2 separate regions of the Homo sapiens genome follow, and region 1 is linked to region 2. Evidence: fine-mapped expression QTL. A gene starts in region 2. The other region holds a variant in brackets. All regions are shown on one strand. Distances are from middle to middle.

Evidence for each region.
Region 1: its variant is fine-mapped to the expression of HOMER3 in whole blood (TOPMed, PIP above 0.99).

The regions. Positions count from the first base shown.
Region 1 is chr19:18,965,148-18,968,049 of GRCh38, reverse strand. No RefSeq gene overlaps it. Among named protein-coding and RNA genes, the nearest start is that of HOMER3, 25 kb to the right of the region's middle. The variant T/A (reference allele first, on the strand shown) is at 1,443.
Region 2 is chr19:18,939,562-18,942,463 of GRCh38, reverse strand. HOMER3 (homer scaffold protein 3) reads left to right here and starts at 1,247. Exons shown (of 10, transcript NM_004838.4): 1 at 1,247-1,413. HOMER3-AS1 (HOMER3 antisense RNA 1) reads right to left here and starts at 2,210. Exons shown (of 3, transcript NR_134913.1): 1 at 1,840-2,210. RefSeq lists a silencer at 1,084-1,283.

The DNA.
Region 1 (2,902 bases), 26 kb before region 2:
GTCAACCTGGAACATTCTCCAAGTCTCCAGAGAGCCTGTCGTCATGGCCAGCTGAGCATGCTTTGCCCTGTCAGCAAAATGCAGTATTTGAAAAGTCACGAGCGTTTCAAAAGGAAGCAGAGTGAGGCGGCCTGGGTCAGCTCCAAGGTGCTTCCTTCCTGCAGGGATGGTGCAATATCCCCAACTGTCTACTGCCCGTTGTGACTTCACCTTCTTATACATTTATTTTTTATTTTTATTTTTTTATTTTCCTGCCTTATTCCAAGAGAGAAGGCTGCGTGTGCATTTCCGTCGGGGAGGTATTTGCCGAGGGGAAGTTCACAGTCATACCCATATCCAGAACCTTTGTGCATTGGGAGATGTTCCAGAGGAACTGCTCTGCCCTCCGGCCTGGTGGGGCAAACACCTGCTTACCCCAAAGCATCAGGATTGCAGGGGGCACAGCCAGGCTCCCAGGCCACTCTCAGAGCTGCCCAGTGCTCCCTAAGCCTCCCCAAATCAGAGAGAGAGTCCTCAAGCACTCAGAAAAATCTAGGAACCTCCCTAGGCTCCTCCTTCTGCCAACTTCTCATAGCCCTCCCAACCCAGGCAGCAGAACGTCTCTCCCTGGAGCCTGTTCCTGCTGACTGTTTTGTTTGTTTGTTTTTTGAGACAGAGTCTCTCTCTGTCACCCAGGCTGACTGGAGTGCAGTGGAACAATCTTGGCTCACTGCAACCTTTGCCTCCCAGGTTCAAGTGATTCTCCTTTCAAGTGATTCTCCTGTCTCACCCTCCCTAGTAGCTGGGATTACAGGCGTGTGCCACCACTCCCGGCTAATTTTTGTATTTTTAGTAGAAACGGAGTTTCACCATGTTGGCCAGGCTGGTCTCAAACTCCTGACCTCAGGTGATCCACCCACCTCAGCCTCTCAAAGTGCTGGGATTACAGACATGAGCCACCGTGCCCAGCTTTTTTTTTTTTTTTTTTTTTTTGAGTTGGAGTCTCGCCCTGTCACCCAGGCTGGAGTGCAGTGGTGCGATCTCAGTTTACTGCAACCTCCACCTCCTGGGTTCAAGTGATTCTCCTGCCTCAGCCTCCCAAGTAGCTGGGACTACAGGCACCTGACACCATGCCTGGCTAATTTTTGTGTTTTTAGTAGAGACAGGGTTTCACCATATTGGCCAGGCTGATCTCGAACTCCTGACCTCAGGTGATCTGCCCGCCACAGCCTCCCAAAGTGCTGGGATTACAGGCGTGAGCCACCATGCCTAGCCCCTGCTTATTGTTTGTTTGTTTTATAGAAATGGTGTCTCAATAAGTTGCCCAGGCCGGCCTCAAACTCCTGGCTTCAAGTGTTCCCTCCCACTGGAGTAGTGTTGTTGTCTGGGGTAAATACCCAAGATTTGTTGTCTCACAGGCCCGGAAAACTAGGACTCAGACATACAAAGAGTGAGGTTCAGAG[T/A]GGAAGTTTAATCGGTGAAAGAAAGAGAAGCGCTCTCTCTGCTGCAGAGAGAGGGATCTTGAACGGGTTTCCACTTCCTCAGTAAAAAGCAGTGAGTTTTATGGATGAGCTTAAGGAGGTGGTGTCTGATTTCCATAGGGCACAAAAGATTGGTTGGACCAGGTGTTTCATTTGCATAGGGTGTAAAAACCTGGTTAAGGCTATGTGTGTAATTTGCATAGGGTGTGAAAAGCTGGCCTTCCCATCCTAATCTTTTTTTTCTTTCTTTTCTTTCTTTTTTTTTTTTTTTTTTTGAGTCTCCCAGGTGGAGTGCAATGGTGCGATCTCAGCTCACTGCAACCTCTGCCTCCCTGGTTCAAGCAATTCTCCTGCCTCAACCTCCTGAGTAGCTGGGATTACAGGTGCCTGCAACCATGCCCGGCTAATTTTTTTAGTAGAGATGGGGTTTCACTATGTTGGCCAGGCTGGTCTCTTGGCCAGGCTGGTCTCAAACTCTGACCTCATGATCTGCTGCCTCATCCTCCCAAAGTGCTGTGATTACAGGCATGAACCACTGCGCCTGGCTTCTTAATCTTTTATTATGCAGATGAGTTCTCTAGCTGGCTGGCGCCATGTTGCCTGTTCATTTTTTTTTGTCGCCCAGGTTGGAGTGCAGTGGCTCGATCTTGGCTTACTGCAACCTCTACCTCCTGGGTTCCCGCGATTCTCCTGCCTCAGCTTCCTGAGTAGCTGAGATTATAGGCGCCCACCACCATGCCTGGCTAATTTTTGTATTTTTAGTAGAGACGGGGTTTCGCCATGTTGGCCAGGCTGGTCTCGAACTCCTGACCTCAGGTGATCCACCTGCCTCAGCCTCCCAAAGTGCTGGGATTTCAGGCATGAGCCACCGTGCCCAGCCAAACTAAAACCTGTTTCTTTACTGTACACGTAGTGACCAAAAAAAAGGGAAGCTGGAGCCCCCATGTTGAACATGCCAGGCCCTCAGGTGGCCCTTTTCCATTGACACAGCTGCTGGTATTCACCCCTGGAAGCTTCCCACTTGCTTATCCATGTCTGCAGCTCGATTTTTCAGGCTGTTTTTTGTTAGAAAAGAAATGAGTTGGCCGGGCGCTGTGGCTCACTCCTGTAATCCCAGCACTTTGGGAGGCCAAGGTGGGCAGATCACGAGGTCAAGAGATCGAGACCATCCTGGCCAACATGGTGAAACTCTGTCTCTGCTAAAAATACAAAAAATTAGCCGGGTGTGGTGGCAGGCACCTGTAATCCCAGCTGCTCGGGAGGCTGAGGCAGGAGAATCGCTTGAAGCCGGGAGGCGGAGGTTGCGGTGAGCCAAGCTCGCGCCGTTGCAATCCAGCCTGGGCAAAAAGAGCTAAACTCTGTCTCAAAAAAAAAAGAAAAAAAGAAAAGAAAAAAGAAATGAGTTGCGGCTGGGCACGGTGGCTCACGCCTGTAATCCCAAA
Region 2 (2,902 bases):
ACAAAAATCAGCCAGGTGTGGTGGCATGCACCTGTAGTCCCAACTACTCGGGAGGCTGAGGCAGGAGAATTGCTTGAATCTGGGAGGCAGAGGCTGCAGTAAGCCGAGATTGTGCCACTGCACTCCAGCCTGGGCAACAGAGTGAGACTTTGTCTCAAAAAAAAGAAAAGAAAAGAAAAGAAAAACTCAAATGTAAGATCAGAGCTTTAGGGCGCCACAGGCCTTGGTTCCAGGGAGCTGCAGGACCTCTGTCCACAAACGAACCAACGGCGCCGCACCGTGTGATTTTGGAGACGGTGCCAGAGAGGGGGCGGCACCAGGATTGACAAGTGGGACACATGGGCTTGGGGCTGGGGAGGTGGATCCTAGTTCAACTCCGGAAGGATGCTCTCCTGGCAAGTGTGGGAAGGGGGTGCTCCCTGTGACCAGAGGTGACAAACGCAGGCCAGTGGAGGCTGAGGGGATGCAACCATGCGTTGGAGACATTTCCTCAGCCTTTGGATTTTGGAACCCTCAAACAACAGCAAAGATAACCTTAATCCAACCATTGTGGGCATTTTTACCATCGTCTTGGGAGGGACAGAGGTGGACAGACGTCCCTGCTTAGGGATGGGACGGGCAGGGGAACAGAGGCTTCTCTCTCTTTGTCTTGCTTCCCGTTCCCTCCCGAAGTTGATCTCTTCCGTTTCCTGGCAACACCCATTGAGCACTTACTGTATGCAGACCCTGAGACCCACTGCCCCCTCCCCAACCTCACTGGGCCACCCATGTCAGCCCGGGAGGGACCTGACCTCCCTCACAGGCCCAAAGTTATGACCTCAGGTAGTGGGGACAGAGGCAGCTGTCTCCTGAGAAGGTGACAGGAGGGTGAGGTCACATCGCTGTCCGTGCAACTCTCTCCATCTGCTTCCTATCTCTCCGCCTGTCTCCCCCGTGTCTCTGTTTCTGGGTCTCTTTCTCATCCCAGATGTCCCTCTCCGTCTGTCTCTCTGTCCCCACCCTCTGCTCCCAACCCGACCCCACGCAACCCCCCCCCCCACTCCCCCTCCACCGCCCCTAACCCCCTCCCTCAATCCTCCGTCCCTTCCCCAGTCCCGGCCCCCGCCCCTCCCCCTTATCCCCTCCCCCATACCCTCTCCCAGTGCAAAAAGCCGGCAGGGGGCGCAGCGGGGCGGCCTTGGCGGCCCGGGGAGGCGGGGCGGGCGGCGGCCGCGTCGGGACCGGCCGCGATGGGACCGGAGGCGGCGCGGGCGGCGGCGGCGCAGACAAAGGCACGGGCGGCGTGGAGGGCGGCGCGGAGGGCGCGGGCCCGGGAGCCAGGGAGCGAGCGGGGCGCCCGGCAGCGCGGAGTCAGCGCCGCGGGGGCCGCACCCGACTCGCGCCTGGACACTCGCGGGGCGCCGACCTGGCAGGGTGAGCCCGGCCTGCCGAGCCTGCGCTGGGAGCGCGGGGGCCTCGAAGTCCCAGGGCCAAGGGGAGGGCGTGGGGGTTCCCCAGAAGTTTCGGACCCGGGACTGGGAGCGGCGCGAGGGGTCCCCAAGTTCCAGGGCTGGAGGGAGCGCGGGGGTCCCGAAGTTCTGGATTCAGGGTCTGAGAGGGGACTGCGTGGGAGGTTCCCAAAGTTCTGGACCCGGCGTTGGAGGAGGCTGCGAAGAGGTCCCCAAAGCTGCGGACCTGGGGTGGGGTACTGGGGTGGGAGGGGTCCGGACGTCCCGGACCCAGGGACTGGAGGGGTGGCAGGGGGTCCTCGAAGTTTAGGAGTCTAGGACAACGCGGAGGACCGGGGTCCCGGACCCAGTTAGAGGAGGAGTCACGAAGGGAGTCCCCGGAGTTACCGACCTGGGGTTGGAGGAGGCAGAAGAGGTGTCCCCCGAAGTTCTGGACCCAGAGACAGGGGGCGTCGCGGGAATCTCGGAAGTTCCAGGGTCAGAGCCCGCGTCCCGGAGTTGGGGCGTGCACTGGGTGTCCTGCCTCGGGTGGGGATGGGATCCTGAATTAATATTAACCCCCCCGTCCCCCGCACTCGGGTGCATGGGATGGGGCCTCATCCACCGGCCAGATTGGGGATCCCGGGCACCGGGCGGTGTCGGACCCCCCTCCGGGAGCCCCGTGGCCGGCGGCATCCGAGGCGCATGACTAGTTGGTGAGTAACTTTCCCCAAACGCTGCAAGTCGCAGCAGGAGCTGCCGGACCGGAAGGGCCTGGGTTCCGGGGACCCCTGTGTTCCCCAACTCCCACCCGGCGCAGGACCCGCCCCCAGTCCAGGCCAGAGCTGCCGCCCCACCCCCACTCAGGGGCTCCGGTTTCAGACCCTGTGACCAGGACAGCAGCTGCCCAGGACAGGATAGGGGGGGCATCCCCCCTTTGACCACAGAGGCCGCTGGGCCAGGGCCTCCCCTCCCCCACCTGTCTTCCCCCTCCTCCAAACTCCTCCTTGGTCCCCTGCAGATTCGGGGTTGCTGAATGGCCCAATGGGGAGGTTGGGGAGCCCTGGTCTCCCAGTGTGGATTCTGCTCTGCCCTCATGGTGGGCATTGGGATTGGCTGTTTGTCTACATCTTGTCTTTTTAACTTGGCTGGGGGCTCCCTGGGGATTTGGACTCTGGACTTCAAGGTGTGCTTCTGCCCTAGGGTGGGAGCTGCTGGGGGTGGGGTCCCTCTGCAGGGTGTAGTGGGGAACTGGTCTCCTGGTACTACACACCTCTCAACGCCCCATTTTTTGGTGGAGAGCCCCGCTCTGGCCAGTCATGGGTGAATGTGGTGGAAAGAACTCAGCAGAGATTTGGCCTCCACAGCTCAGCCTGGGATGGAGGGGACTTCACGGGGGTGCAATAACCAGGACAATGAGAAATTTACATCTGGATGTCAGCGGCCACCAGGCTCCTCTCAGAGGGCCATCTCCT